Regions from separate parts of the Homo sapiens genome. Here region 1 is linked to region 2. A link means that fine-mapping ties the variant in region 2 to the expression of a gene that starts in the linked region. Tissue or cell type: whole blood. Region 2 holds a variant in brackets; the other region holds the start of a gene. All regions are shown on one strand. Distances are between the middles of the regions.

Evidence for each region. PIP is the estimated chance that this variant, and not a neighbour inherited with it, causes the effect.
Region 1: it holds the start of MIB2, and the variant in region 2 is fine-mapped to the expression of MIB2 in whole blood (INTERVAL, PIP above 0.99).

What each region holds. Positions count from the first base shown.
Region 1 is chr1:1,612,451-1,620,450 of GRCh38, forward strand. It overlaps MIB2 (MIB E3 ubiquitin protein ligase 2), which reads left to right and starts at 3,050. Exons shown (of 20, transcript NM_001170687.4): 1 at 3,050-3,183; 2 at 4,058-4,164. RefSeq lists an enhancer at 2,545-2,714 and silencers at 2,815-3,864, 3,895-3,984.
Region 2 is chr1:1,645,063-1,653,062 of GRCh38, forward strand. It overlaps CDK11B (cyclin dependent kinase 11B), which reads right to left. Exons shown (of 20, transcript NM_033486.3): 4 at 7,377-7,504; 5 at 4,437-4,575; 6 at 64-200. Among named protein-coding and RNA genes, the nearest start is that of CDK11B, 9.9 kb to the right of the region's middle. The variant G/A (reference allele first, on the strand shown) is at 3,674.

The sequences.
Region 1 (8,000 bases), 33 kb before region 2:
GTCCCCTTGGTCAAAAGGGAATCTGTTCAGTTGGTGGAGGGCTGGCTGGGTGTGGTGGCTCACATCCCAGCACTTTTGTTTTTTCTTTTTCTTTTCTTTTTTTTTTTTTGTTTTTTTTGTTTTTGAGACGGAGTCTCACTCTGTCACCCAGGCTGGAGTGCAGTGGCCAGATCTTGGCTCACTGCAACCTCTGCCTCCTGGGTTCAAGCAATTCTCCCACCTCAGCCTCCCAAGTAGCTGGGACTACAGGCGAGCACCACCAAGCCCGGCTAATTTTTGTATTTTTAGTAGAGATGGGGTTTTGCCATGTTGGCAAGGCTGGTCTCCAACTCCTGGCCACAGGTGATCCTCCCACCTTGGCCTCACAAAGTGTTGGGATTACAGGCGTGAGCCACTGTGCCTGGCTGGTTTTTTTTCTTTTTTTTTTTTTTTGAGACAGAGTCTTCCTCTGTCACCAGGCTGGCGTACGGTGGCATGATCTTGGCTCACTGTAACCTCCGATTCCTGGGTTCAAGCCATTCTCCTGGCTCAGCCTCCCAAGTAGCTGGGATTACAGGTGCCCACCACCACACCCAGCTAATTTTTGTATTTTTAGTAGAGACGGGGTTTCACCATGTTGGCCAGGCTGGTCTCGATCTTATGACCTCATGATCTGCCTGCCTTGGCCTCCCAAAGTGCTGGGATTGCAGGCATGAGCCACCGCGTCTGGCTTTTTTTTTTTTTTTTTTTGAGACGGATTCTTGCTCTGTTCCCCAGGCTGGAGTGCAGTGTCACGATCTCAGCTCACTGCAACCTCCACCTCCTGGGCTCAAGCAATTCTCCTGCCTCAGCCTCCCAAGTAGCTGGGACTACAGGCGTGCACCACCATGCCTGGCTAATATTTTTTTTTTTTGTATTTTTGTATTTTTAGTAGAGACAGGGCTTCACCATGTTGGTCAGGTTGGTCATGAACTCCTGACCTCAAGTGATCTGCCCTCCTCAGCCTCCCAAACTGCTGGGATTACAGGCGTGAAGCCATCGCACCCAGCCAATCCCAGCACTTCAGAAGGCAGAGGTGAGCAAACAGCATAGCCCAGGAGTTTGAGACCAGCCTGGGCAACATGGTGACACCCTGTCTCTACTAAAAATTTAAAAATAACCGGCATGGTGGTGCATGTCTGTGGTCCTAGCTACTCAGGAGGCTGAGGTGGGAGGATCACTTGAATCCAGGAAGCAGAGGCTGCAGTCAACCAAGATAGTGCCACTGCACTCCAGCCTGGGCAACAGAGCAAGACCCTGTCTCAAATACAAAACAAAACAAAAAACAGTTGGTAGAGAGCTTAGGATTTTATTTTTCGTTTACACAGGGAATCCAAGAAAGGAGACAGACAAAGTGAGTCTCAAGGATGAGAGCAGAGAAAAGCTCGAGATAAGAGCTGTGCAGCCGGGTCAGGAAGTGATCGGTCTAGGTCGGAACAGGAGAATCAGTTAGACACAACGGATGTGTTTGAGCCTTTGGAAAACGGTATCGTTAGGCATGTGGCGAAAACGTTGGGGTACTTGAAAAAAAGGCTGGCCATGGGTTAGTAAAAAGCTAGATATGTGAAAATATTAGGTAATTATTAACTCAAAAGAAAAAAAAAGATTGTACAGGAATTGTGGCATGGTTTTATACTGTAGCAGTGAACAGCAGGTACTCAATCATGAAGAGCTAAGCCTGATTTCATCACGACAGCTGTGAAAGTTGCAGGTACCAAAATGGAACTACTTCCACCAATCCCTAAACAAATGGAGTCGGGAGGCCACGAAGGGGGAGCTCTCATGCAGGAATACCTGCAGCAGGCCTCCTCACAAGACGCTCCTGCACGTCCTGCACGTTTGCCTGTAACCGGACTTACTGCAGGGAAATTCCTCAGGACTGCAGTATTCTAGATAAGCAGCTTGCACAAGGACGTCGGCCTGGTAAGGCTCTCTCCAACAACAAGCTAACGCCCACTCCTGCAGCAAGCGCCCACAGCCAGTGGTTTTTGTTACAAAACAACTTTTGTGAGCTCATCTGTATTTTCCCCTTCGCCCGGCCCTCTCAGATAGGCCTATGATCTGTCATGGCACGAACAGCCTAGGCTGCAACCCCCTGCGATTCCCAGATTAACTCACTTGTCCTGGAGAGCCTGCCTCTGGGTTTCCTTTCAGGTTGACAGTTTGGGAGCTAACAGGACCACGTGAGGGGTGCAGCGGGGAAGATCAGCCAGGTTCTCAGGGACCTTCTCCGGAAGTACGCAATGTCTACAATTAAGAAATGAGAGGCCGGGCGCGGTGGCTCACGCCTATAATCCCAGCACGTTGGGAGCCCTAGGAGGGCAGATCACGAGGTCAGGAGTTCGAAATCAGCCTGGCCAAAATGGTGAAACCCCGTCTTGACTAAAAATGCAAAAATTAGCTGTGCGTGGTAGCGCATGCCTGTAGTCCCAGCTGCTCGGGAGGCTGAAGCAAGAGAATAGTTTAAGCCCTGGAGGCGGAGGTTGCAATGAGCCGAGATCGCGCCATTGCACTCCAGCCTGGGCGACAGGGCGAGGCTCCGTCTCCAAAAAAAAAAAAAGAAAGAAAGAAAGAAATGAGAAACTAGCAGTGCATTGTTCAGAAACGCGGAGACTTCTCTCAGGAGAAAGCGAGAAGCAAGCGTCCAACTCTGGGGTGCAGAACCCGGGGCGGGAGGACGGGCCCGGACTGCCGTTTCTCGCTGTGTCCAGGTCTGCGTGACTCAAAACCCCGGATAGGGCCCGCACTGGTGGAGTCGGAAAGAGGTGGCTGCGGCGCGGCAAGTGCCGCCAGTGCCAGCGAGCGCGACGTCGCTCCCAAGCCCCCGTCTCTATGGCAACCGAGTGCGTCTCTAGGACCGCCACTGCGCAGGCGCCCGGAGGCTAAGCCGCTCGGAACCTAGCTGCGCCACGCAGGGTAGGCGACGCAGACGCTCCCGCGTGACGCACTTCCGGTGCTTGCCCTGCCCATCCCCGTGGCGGGGGCGTGGCCATGGCGGGGGCGCTCCGGCGGGGGCGGGCCCTGGGCTCCCGCCCTTCGGGTCCCACAGTTTCCAGCCGCCGCTCTCCTCAGTGCCCGGTGGCCCAGGAGGGCCTGGGAGCCCGAAGCCGTCCCCGAGTCGCTCCTAGGTCACTGGCGCGATGCGGGCCGTCCTCTCGGCTGATGGTGCGTGCGGGCGCGGATCTCCTCCCCTGGTCCTCCGCACCGTCCCCGAGTCGTTCTCCGCTCTGGCAGAACGCGAGCGCCGTCCGGTTCCCGCTCCCGCTGGCCCAGCAGCCCCGGGCTGGACTCGGCGTAGGGTCCGCACGGGATGGGCTGGGGCTGCGCGCGCAGCGCCGCCGCGGGGCCTCCTGGGAGTTGTGGTCCGGCCACCCGCGCGGGACTCCAGCTCCCGGCAGGCCTCGCGCGGCCCGGGGCCAGCGGCGCTGGGGTCGGCGCTGGGGTCGTCGTCCGGGCCGGGTGGGCTGCGGCGCGCGGCAGGCGCTCTGGCCTGGCCTGGCCGCCGCTGAGCAGTCGGGGCCGGTGGGTGGCCTCGAACGCCGGGACAGACCGACAGACGGACTGGCCGGCGGTCCCGCGCCCCCGAGCGGAGCGGGCGGGACGGAAACGTCCGGGCAAGTTGGGGTCGGCAGGTACTGCGCGGCCCTGGCAAGGTCTGGCAGCGGACAGGGCCGGGCGGCCTCCGCGAGCCACGGGCACGAATGACAGGGGGCGGGGCGCGCTCCGGGTGGGGGTGCCCGCCGTGCCCGCCCCTGGCCCGCCCGTTCCCCTGCGCCGGCGCCCGTGCGCGTCCCGGAGCCTCCTGACGTCTGCGAGCCGCGGCCGCCAGACCCCGGGCGCACGCAATTACGGGCCCGGCGCTGGCGGCTCCTGCGCGCTCAGACCCCAGGGAGCCCATCCGGGCAGGCGGCGGCCCTGAGTGTCGCGGCCGTGGGCCCGAGTGGACCTGGAGCCGGCGGGCAGCCCCGGGGGCAGACAGGCGACCGAGCCGCGGGTCGAGGTGCTAACTGTGCATCTTGGCATCTCCCCTCGGCCACAGGGTTGGAAGCCCAGCGAGGCTAGAGGCCAGTCCCAAAGTTTCCAGGCATCAGGGCTGCAGCCCAGGAGCCTCAAGGCGGCCCGGCGGGCGACTGGACGGCCGGACAGGTGAGCTCTTGATCGTCCGCGGCCTGATAGTTTGCACTTGGCTCTCCCACTTTGGGGCTCCGTGGAAGCCACGTCAGAGAGGCTGTGTTTGTGTCTGAGCATGCATGCGAGTGGAGGGGAGTGGTGAGTAATCCCGCGTCTCCTCTCTGAGTTCGGAACCCATGGAGGAAGAAAGCAGAGGTGCCAGACAGGCCTCTGATAGGCACCTGCAGGATTGGGGCAGAGCGGCCGCAGCGCAGGAGCGCCGGCAAGCCTGGCCCTTCCCGGGAGGCCCCCTTTGTCCGGTTCCACCCTGGCCTGTTGCCTCACATGCAACAAGTGTCTGAATGTGGCGCTCTCCTGGCCGAGGGCAGCCCTGGGCGGTGAGTGGGATGACACCCCAGCCTGCAGGGTGCCTGTAGGTCTCCACCCAGATGGGCAGGATTGGAGGTGGCCGCAGCGCTCGTGGGCTTTCCCTCAGCAGGTGTCTCCATGCTGGCCTCCCCGCCTCAGGGCTTCATCCCACTCCGTGGGCCTGATCTCCCTGGGGCACCTGGGATGTCCATCTGCGTTAGCTGGAGCTACTCCATGGCCTGTGGCGTGCCACACACAGCGGCATTTCGGTGTCATTAGGCACAGCTGGAGGTGCAAGGAGGAGGGCAGCCTCATGTCCAGTTCCATGTAACTTGCTTCTTCTGAATAAAGGCAATTTGCTAACTTTCTCGCTAAATAGGATTTGGTTTCTATGGCTTTTAAAGCTTCTCCGATAAAATACTTGCAATAAGGGAACTCTCTCCTCCTACACTCTCCTGACTGATGGTTCGGAAGTCCTCCTGCCCTCTGAGAGCTTGCAGTTTCTTGTGAAAAAGAGAAACTAAGCAGCAATAGAACAGACCCGGTGTCTGCTTGCGTGGTTAAGACGGTAAATGCTAAATGTGTGACACTGCCTTTAGAAACCATTTTCTCCAGCCTGGCTTGCTGGCTGCCCGTCTGGTTTGCTGTGTTGTGTCTCCAGTGGCTTTAGCTTCCAACAGGAAAGCCTGGTAGCCGAGCGAATCTGTGACCCAGGAAGTAGCAATTAAATGCCTGGGACGCTGCCTCGAGGCTGGTGTGTGCTCTGAGGTAAGTTCCGATTTGCCAAAGCACATCTGTCGATCTGTCGCCCGAGTCTTCACACCCTGACTGCCTCCATCATTTTAAACATCGGGAGCAGTTGCCTGCAGCGGGGTTCAGATGCCAGCCAGGGGCACAGCCTGTGAACTGTGGGTAGATGGCAAAGTCTAGCATTTCTGGCAAAGGAAAAAACATTTGGTAACTCTCTGAGTAAATTTCTGACTGAGATGAAGATACCCATTGTGGGGCAGCATCCTGAAGCGGAAGCCTGGGCTGTATGTTTCCAAGAGGAGGAGCAGGAGTGGCCACAGCCATGTACGCCACGATGTACACCAGGGGCTGCGTGGCCACAGCTCTGGTCTGCTGGTCTGCTCCCTGGAGCCCCTCCACCAGTGCTGGGCTGTGGCTGTGGCTGTCTCTGGTTTGTCTTTCTGGGAAACCTTGGCCAGGTTGGTGTGAGGGCAGGGCTAGCCTTGGACATCTGCACTTCCCATAGCAGCCTCTGGCCCAGAGCTCACCCGCTGTGGGCAGGTGATCAGGGTGATCAGGTCCCACGGGTCCCCTCCTCTGCACCTGGAGCCTTGTGGGTGTAGAACAGAAAAATAGGAGGGGGCAACCCAGAGGCCTCCTGCTCTCCAGGAAGGAATGGATGCTGGACAGGTCCAGGGTGGAGGCAGAGGGAGTGAGGGGCCCTTGGGGGAACATCTGTCCTAGAGGGCTTGATTTCCAGGCTGCCCACCCCACTCCTACCCCTAATCTGGTGTTCCTCACCTGCCTCCAGGAAGTCCTCACCTGAGGTCTGCAGCGGGTGTGCCAAGCGCCAGCCCCACATCACCTGCTCCCAGGCCTGCCCAGGGGATGGGTCCTGTGGCCAGTACCCTCGGGGTCAGCTTGACCCAGACCCAGCCCAGAACCTGTCCCATGGCCCCAGGAGGACAGGATGGTCAGGGAAGCCCAAGGGATGAGCCCTTTTGTCCACAAGCTTCCCTCTGACATGGGCAGGCTGCTTGTGCGACCCCACAGCCCCCACCTCTCATGAACAATGGGAATGGGGCAGGCCCCTCGATGCTGGGCTGGATCCTCCCGCCCCTAAGCAGGTGCACTCTGTCCCCTTTGAGAAGAGACCAAGGGATACAAGTGCTGGGTCCTGGCGGGGTGCCCCTCCTCCCTGCCTGTGGGGGTCTCATTACTGCCTCCTGCCCCCACCACAAACACCCCCTAGAGAGGCCTTCGGAGGCAGGTACTGAGCCCTGGGGCCAGGGTGCCAGGAGCCCAGTGGCAGGTCTTGGGTGACTGCTGGCCCTGGGGCAATGGTGAGAAAGCCAGGCAGGCAGCTGCAGGAAGGAGCTGAGGAGAAAGGCGGCAGAGCCTCAAAAGCTGCTGGCGGCCGGGCACAGTGGCTCACACCTGGAATCCCAGCACTTTGGGAGGCCGAGGCGGGCGGATCACGAGGTCAGGAGATCGAGACCATCCTGGCTAACACGGTGAAACCCCCGTCTCTACTAAAAAATAGAAAAAATGAGCCAGGTGTGGTGGCAGACGCCTGTAGTCCCAGCTACTCGGGAGGCTGAGGTAGGAGAATGGCGTGAACTTGGGAGGCGGAGCTTGCAGTGAGCTGAGATTGCGCCACTGCGCTCCAGCCTGGGCGACAGAGCGAGATTACGTCTCAAAAAAACCAAAACTGCTGGCCCCTCCAGAGGGTCCAGGATACTGAGCTCCTGAGCCTGGGATCCACGCGCATGTGGTCTGTCTGCACACTGGCACCGCAGAAGGGTTGGCAGGCGGGCAGGCATGGCTGGAGACCCCGCTCAGATGAGGCGGCCACTCCAGGGCAGTGCCATGCTGGACAGAAGGGACTGCCTTGGAAGTGGGACAGACCCCAGACCCTTGGGGTGGGGGCCCTGCAGGGGAGGCCTTGAGGAGGCGCCGGGTCTACAGGCCCCTGTGTGCTCACATCCCAGCCCCCGGGGAGAGGTGGGAGTGGGTGGGCGCACCCAGCTCCCCTGTCCAGGCTCGTCCCCCTTGTTGGGGCAGCCCTCAGCAAGTGGGGGGCTGGTTCCAGGCACAAGAAGTGAGGCCAGGGAGGAAGCCCTGCCTGTGTTCAGCCCAGTTGTGCCCCAACTCAGGTGGGCTTCCATGAGGGACAGCCTCTGGGAGGGTGGGGGTTTGTGGGCCAGGGCTGGAGAGCTGCCTGGCTGTGCTAAAAATACCGGGCATGCTGCAGACAGGTGCCAGTCTGGGGCACAGGCTACCCTGTCTCAGGCTGATGGCCTTGGCACTCCACCCCACTGCCCCTGTGACGCGGGGGCCGCCAAGGCTTGGTCTTGATTCCCAGAGGCCCTGCTGGTGACCTCCCCGACATCTCTGCCCTCTGCCCATCCCCCCAAGGGCAAGATTTGCCAAAGCACAGGACACATTGGCTCACACATGGGGCACCCTGCCCCTGTCTTTTTGGAAAGGTCCAATGGCATATGGCCAGCGGGTCGGGCAGGTGTGGCCGCTGGCCTGGGCTAAGCTGGCTGTGGCTGAGAGTCTGGGCGCAGAGACAGAAGGCGCCCCCTGCTGCAGAAGGATCACAGTGTGGGCTCATGGCATTGGCTTTTTTGCGGTCCCAAGTCCTTCATCTCCATTGCCGGGCCCATCTCGGGGGTCGGCAGATGCGTGTCCCCTACTAGCAAAGACCTCCAGTCGGTTCTGCGGCTGCCTGTGATGAGCCCTGCTCTGGCTAAGTGGAGGTGTTTGGC
Region 2 (8,000 bases):
CCCAGCACCAGGGGGCAGCAGACACGCGTCCCGCCGAGCACAGCTGCCCACCGCGCCGCCTACCTTCCCTGCGGGCCTCCCGCTCCTTGCGCCGCTCCTCTGCCCGCCGCTCGCGCTCCTTCTGCTCCCGCTGCTCCTTCTGCTGCTCCCGCATCTTGCGCTCCCGCTCCCGCTTCCTTTCTAACTGCTCCAAGCGGTCCCTGAAGAGGCACACGCCATCATTCCCCCTAAACAGAAGCTTGCTTATCGCGTTTTTGTCCACATTTGTAAACTGGCTTTCTACGTAATTCAATCCGTGAAGTTTTTTTTTCATTTTTTTATTTTATTTTCTTTGAGACGGAGTCTTCATCTGTCCCCCAGGCTGGAGTGCGGTGGCGCGATCTCGGCTCACTGCAACCTCCGCCTCCCGGGTTCGAGCGATTCTCCTGCCTCAGCCTCCCGAGTAGCTGGGATTACAGGCGTGCGCCCTGTACTCCCAGCTAATTTTTGTATTTTTAGTAGAGACGAGGGTTTCACCATGTTAGCCAGGATGGTCTCAATCTCCTGACCTCGTGATCCGCCTGCCTCCGCTTTTCAAAGTGCTGGGTTTACAGGCCCGAGCCACCGTGCCCAGCTGCCATTTCCAATTCTAATTAATAAATGATCCATTTCTTTCCATTCGATCGGTGTTTGCTTCATGGATTTTGGGCTCTGTGGTTAGATGCATTCACACGTATCATTGCTGTATCTTCCTGCTGTATTGGCCTGTTTCTGGCTGTGAAGTCCTTGCTCCTTCTTGTTTCTAGCTTTTTTTTGAGACAGGGTCTTGGTTTGTCACCCAGGCTGGAGTGCAGTGGCGCAATCTCGGCTCACTGCAACCTCCATCTCACGAGTTCAAGTGATTCTCATACCTGAGCCTCCCGAGTAGCTGGGATTACAGGTGTGCGCCACCACACCCAGGTGATTTTTGTAGAGACAGGGTTTCACCATGTTGGCCAGGCTGGTTTCTAATATTTCTTAACATCTGTTTTGTCTGGTATGAGTACAGCCATTCAAGCTCTCCTATGACAGCTGATGTTTGTACGCTGCGTCTTTTCCTGTTCTCTAGCAGACAGCATACAGTTAGATCTTGTTTTTCTATCTGATAATCTGCCCTGTCTGTTTGGGGCACAGAGACCTTTCACATGTCATATAATTACACGTACAGTTGGATTTACTTTCCTTGCTTTGTTGTGTCTTTTTTATTCTTCCCTTTTTGATTTTAAATTACATATGTTTAGCATACCATTTTAATTTATTTGTACTTTTTAAAACACTAAGAAAACAACTTTCTTAGTGGTTGCTCTAGGGATCACCGTATGCCTCATGATACTAGCTCAAGTCCAGTACAATATAAAACTGTTGTAACACAGCTTTATTCCCTGTCTTCTTTGTGCAGTCCATTTATGCCACATACCATGACAACAGTGTAATTATTTTATACAATCGTAGTTCCAGTAAAACCTAAGATGTGAGGAGAGATAGTTACAGGATATTGACGTCAACCTACACTTGCTATCTGCAGTGCCTGTCCTTCCTTCCTGAGGATTCAAGTTACCGTCTGGTGTCATTTCTATTCAACTTGAAGGTCTTCCTTTAGTATTTCCTTTAAGGCAGGTTTCGCCAACAATGAATCCCACCAGTCTCTGCTTCTCAGGGAATGTCGTTCGTTCCCTTTCACTTGTGTAGAACGGTTTTGATTCCTGGCTGATGGTTCTTCTCTCTGAGCAGCTTGAGTATGCCACTCCACTGCCTTCTGGCCTCCATTGTTTCTAAGAAGTCAGTGGCTGGCGGTATTGAAGCTCCCCTTTCATGGGATGGGTCATTCTTCTCTGAGGCCTTTCAACATTTTCTCTTTGGCCTTTGCCAGTTTGACTATGATGTGACTTTGCATTTATTCTAGTTCAAACTTCCTGTGCTCTTGAATGTGCATATTTTTTAATTAAAATTTGGAAAGTTTTTAACCATTATTGTAACAAATATCTTTCCTCTCTCCTGGAACCCCCATTCGACGTGCTTTGGTACAGCAGATGTTGTACCACGGGTTTCTGAGGCTCTGTGCATTTTTCTTGTTTTTTTCTCTCTGTTCTTCAGAATGGATAATTTCTACTGCTCCATCCACAAGTTGTTTCCAAGCCTTTACTAAATTCAACATCTGGACACTCAGACAGTTTTTACTGATGATGTTCTTCCTCAGTATGGGTCACACTGTCATACTTCTTTGTATTTTAGATAATACATTTGTAGCAATTCTGGATTCTAAGTTTTCCCTTTCGTTGTTACCACCGAGGCCTGTCTGGTTGTCCGTGAAATCCATCTCCCTCACAGCTCGTGGCCACCCCGTTCCTTCCCACATGCCTATTTTAATTTTCAACCTTGGCTTCCTAGGGGTCACCACCATGGCTGCACAGCTTAGCAATTAGCCAGCACTGGAAAAAGGCTGGGCTCAAATACCTCGAGCACAGTAAGGCTTCCTTGGCCCACGGCTGTGTGTGGACAGGGAGCACACTGAACGTTCACGCGTCATTCGCATCTGTGGCGGCTTCTATTTTCTGCCAGGTCCTTTCACGCAGCTGCATCCTCAGGGCTGGTCACAAGTGGGTGGCGGCTCGAGCTCTCTCCAGTCTCTGCTGCACGTCTTTGGCGAGATCACAGCTGCTCCCAACCACACTGTACTTCATTCTAGCAGACCTCTTGGCCTTTTCTTCCTCCCTCCACTGAGGATGCTGGTGGGCAAGGCCACTGCCCACTGCTCTAAACGGAGTAACCCCTTCCAAGGCAGCAAGGAAACTGCAGGTCCTGCAGCTGCCCTGTCCCAGTGGAACCTCCGTGCTTCCCAAGTGCAGAGTGGAAGCAGTAAAGGGAGCAGCTCTCAGGCCAGAAGGTCAGATTCTTACTGCTTTCACCCACAGCTCAGCAGTTTTCCAAGCATCAGTGCTTCTCAGATTATCCTTATCAGTTTCCTTTTTGTCAGAGACAAGGTCTCCCTACGTTGCCCAGGCTGGCGTCATGCGGTCCTCTGGCCTTAGCCTCCCACGTAGCATATGCTACCATACCCAGTTCTGGATTGGCTGATCTGAATCGGCCCTACCCAGAAGTCTGCCCCCAACAATTTTTGCTCATTCACTCTCCTGTCTTTACCTTCTGGGAAATCAATATGACAGCCCAAATTTCATCTACCAACCTCCACTTCTATCCCAAGCTGTACTCTCGTGGGACAAGACACACTCAATGTCTGGCACAGGGTGTGGCATACATGAATGTTTCACACACTAACAGGAACTAGGCCAACTGAAACCTTGCTCACCCCGCAGCGGTCTCGGACCTTGACCCCTGGGCCTCAGTGTCTCCCACACCCTTCGGCATCAACAAGAACCAGCGCCCTCTCATCATCTTTACATGCTGTGTACCCAGCCCTGGCTGCTGGCAAACATCGCTGCCCTTCCGCTTCAGACTCCTCTCTTCCTGGAGCAGCTTGCAAGCTTTCTGTGGACTCACTCTGAAGGCGGAGATGGGCCTGCTCCCACCTGGCCTACAGCCTTTTTCCTGGTTCACGGAACAGATCTGGGGCTACACCGATGTTCTTTCTTGGGAATCTGGCTCATAAAGGGGAACGAATATATAAACTAATGGCCAGGAGTCCTGGGAGTCCAGG[G/A]TCCCGAATTCCAGACTGTTTCAAGGTTTTTAGGATCTCCCTTCTCCTTTTTTTGAGACAGTCTCACTCTGTCAACCAGGCTGGAGTGCAATAGCATGGTCATAGCTTACTGCAGCCTTGACCTCCAGGCTCAAGGGATCCAACCACCTCAGCCTCCTAAAGTGCTAGGATTACAGGCATGAGCCACCGCGCCCGGCCGGACATGCAGATTTCTGATCCCTTCATTGTCTTCCCTCAATCAAATCACACCCGTTCTTACTTCCAGATGCAGTGAAAACTCACTCCCTCAGGACAGTTCTCTTGGTCAGCCTCGTCCAGCGTTCACTGTGCTGTTTCCATGTCTACCACTTCTGCACCAAATGTGACTTCTTCTTTTTTTTTTGAGACGGAGTCTCGCTCTGTCGCCCAGGCTGGAGTGCAGTGGCGGGATCTCAGCTCAATGCAAGCTCCACCTTCCGGGTTCACGCCATTCTCCTGCCTCAGCCTCCCAAGTAGCTGGGACTACAGGTGCCCGCCACCATGCCCAGCTAATTTTTTGTATTTTTTTAGTAGAGACGGGGTTTCACCATGTCAGCCAGGATGGTCTCCATCTCCTCACCTCATGATCCGCCCACCTCGGCCTCCCAAAGTGCTGGGATTACAGGCGTGAGCCACCACACCTGGCTCAGATGTGACTTCTATTGCCAAATTCTTCTTCATTTCTAGGATGGGACACACTACCACAGCCCTTTTATAAAGTCCTCAACTGACCCAGCCGACTCACCTTTCTCTCCTGGAATGCTCCCTTGCCATCTCCCTTCTCTTCTGTCTTTCCCATTCCCGGCGAGCTTTATCCTGTTCTTCTCGATGCCGTTTCCGACGTTCGTGCTCTCTTTCTTTTTCTTTCACTCTAGCATGCTTCCCTAATGAGAAATAAAGTGTCATGCAAAGAAACCTCACTTCAAAAATTTCACATGAAGCCGGGCACGGAGGCTTATGCCTGTAATCCTAGCACTTTGGGAGGCTGAGGCGGGCGGATCACCTGAGGTCAGGAGTTCAAGGCCATCCTGGCCAACATGGTGAAACCCCGTCTCTACTAAAAATACAAAAATTAGCTGGGCGTGGTGGCAGGCACCTGTAATCCCAGCTACTAAGCGAGGCTGAGGCAGAAGAATTGCTTGAACCCGGGAGGCGGAGGTTGCAGTGAGCCGAGATCACGCCACTGCACTACAGCCTGGGCAAAAAAAAAAAAAAAACCCACGTGAAACTGAAATTAAGACCGGGCGCGGTGGCTCACGCCTGTAATTCCAGCACTCTGGGAGGCCGAGGTGGGCGGATCACAAGGTCAGATCGGGACCATCCTGGCTAACACGGTGAAACCCCATCTCTACTAAAAATACAAAAAATTAGCTGGGTGTGGTGGCGGGCACCTGTAGTCCCAGCTACTCGGGAGGCTGAGGCGGGAGAATAGCGTGAACCCAGGAGATGGAATTTGCAGTGAGCTGAGATTGCGCCACTGTACTCCAGCCTGGGTGACAAGCAAGACTCCGTCCCAAAAAAAAAAAAAAAAGAAATTAAATCAAGAACAGTAAATATTTAAATAAATATTTAAATAATGATGTTAACGTTAAGTAATCCTAATTTTTCTTTTTTTTCTTTTTTTTTTTTGGAGATGGAGTCTTGCTCTGTCGCCCAGGCTGGAGTGCAGTGGCGCAATCTCGGCTCACTGCAAGCTCCGCCTCCCGTGTTCACACCATTCTCCTGCCTCAGCCTCCCGAGTAGCTGGTACTACAGGCGCCTGCCACCACGCCCGGCTAATTTTTTGTCTTTTTAGTAGAGACGGGGTTCCACCATGTTAGCCAGGATGGTCTTGATGTTCTGACCTCGTGATCTGCCGGCCTCGGCCTCCCAAAGTGTGGGGATTACAGTTGTGAGCCACCGCGCCCGGCCTTTTTTTTTTTTTTTTTTTTTTTTAAAGAGACAGGGTCTCGCTATATTGGCCAGGCTGGTCTTGAACTCCCGGACTCAATTGATCCTCCAAAGTGCTGGGATTACAGGCCTGGGCCACTGCACCCAGCCGAATAATCATGATTTTATGTTAAATAAAAAACTTTGAAAATAAAAAACTATCTGCAGTAAGCGTCTAATTATGAAGAAAGAAGAAAAAAGAAAAACAATTCTGCTATCACAGAAGAGCAGAATTGTAATATTCGTCTTTTAAAACTTTTCCATACTGAATAAACTATAATTATCAGTTTTATAATACAAAAATCACTCTTCACAAAGACTACAGAACAAAGCTTTGCTATCAGTGGGCTTCTCCACTGTGCAATGAAGCCACATTAATTAATCAAGTGTATTTATAATCATGACATTTCAATCGGGCTCCAGGTCCAATTTTCCTAACACCCGTAAGAACCTCCTGATGTTGGTACGAGATCAAACTGCTCAAGCCAAACCCATTCTTTGGACTTGAGCAAATACCCATTTTGGGGTGTGTTTTTCTCCTATACTTGTTGAATTCAGGTCATTTTAAATGTAAACAAACTGCTTCCAAACAATATAATGGGGGAGAGAAAACCCCAGAGGAAAAATGGACTAGCCATTCTGAATGGTCTGTGACACACGCACGCTTTCAGCTAGAGTTTGCTCTCTCTGGTTTTCGGTCTGTGATACACGCATGCTTTCAGCTGGAGTTTGCTCTCTGTAGCCCCTCTGAACGGTCTGTGACACACGCATGCTTTCAGCTAGAGTACTCTATAGCCCCTCTGAATGGTCTGTGACACATGCACGCTTTCAGCTAGAGTACTCTCTCTATAGCCCTTCTGAATGGTCTGTGACACACGCATGCTTTCAGCTGGAGTTTGCTCTCTCTGGTTTTCGGTCTGGGACACATGCATGCTTTTAGCTAGAGTTTGCTCTGTATAGCCCTTCTGAACGGTCTGTGACACACGCATGCTTTCAGCTGGAGTTTGCTCTCTATAGCCCCTCTGAATGGTCTGTGACACACGCATGCTTTCAGATAGAGTATTCTCTCTATAGCCCTTCTGAATGGTCTGTAACACACGCACGCTTTCAGCTAGAGTTTGCTCTCTCTGGTTTTTGGTCTGTGACACACGCATGCTTTTAGCTAGAGTTTGCTCTGTATAGCCCTTCTGAATGGTCTGTGACACATGCATGCTTTCAGCTAGAGTTTGCTCTCTCTGGTTTTTAGTCTGTGACACACACATGCTTTTAGCTAGAGTTTGCTCTGTATAGCCCTTCTGAATGGTCTGTGACACACGCGTGCTTTCAGCTAGAGTTTGCTCTCTCTGGTTTTTGGTCTGTGACACACGCATGCTTTTAGTTAGTTTGCTCTCATAGCCCTTCTGAACGGTCTGTGACACATGCATGCTTTCAGCTATTCTCTCTATAGCCATTCTGAATGGTCTGTGACACACGCACGCTTTCAGCTAGAGTTTGCTCTTTCTGGTTTTCGGTCTGTGACACACGCATGCTTTCAGCTAGAGTTTGCTCTCTCTGGTTTTCGGTCTGTGACGCACGCATGCTTTTAGCTAGAGTATTCTCTCTATAGCCATTCTGAACGGTCTGTGACACACGTATGCTTTCAGCTAGAGTTTGCTTTCTCTGGTTTTTCAGTGGTGCTCTGGGGAAGGCAGAAGAGTAGGAACAGGAAAGAAACCACACTTGAACATGATGTCAAAGAAAGTAAATGCTTCTGTACCCCCTTCTGCTGAATGGCTACGATGCCTACGTTTCTCTTTTCTCTTTTCATCTTTTCTGTGATGAGCTTTTTCTTTCCGAGACATTTGCTGGGGTGGTTTGATGGCCAAAGAATCATCTTCTTCTCCTCTGAAATAAAACACAACAGCACTGCATCATGCTTGAGAAAGTGCAAAGAAGCATCAGGCTATTATAAGGTTTCTTCAACCCAGAAAAATGCATGATTCAGACAGGAACAAAGCTGAAACATCATTTAAAAAATTACATTAATTCTCCAACTTTAGGCATCTTTTTTTTCTTTTTTTCTTTTTTTTAGACAGTCTCGCTCTGTTGCCCGGGCTATAGTGGCACGATCTCGGCTCACTGCAATCTCCACCCTCCGGGTTCATGCCATTCTCTTGCCTCAGCCTCCCGAGTAGCTGGGACTACAGGCGCCCGCCGCCACGCTGGCTAATTTTTGTATTTTTAGTAGAGACGGGGTTTTACCATGTTAGCCAGGATGGTCTTGGTCTCCTGACCTCATGATCCGCCCACCTCGGTCTCCCAAAGTGCTGGGATTACAGGCGTGAGCCACTGCGCCCGGCCTGTATTTATTTTTTTGAGACGGAGTCTCGCTCTGTTGCCC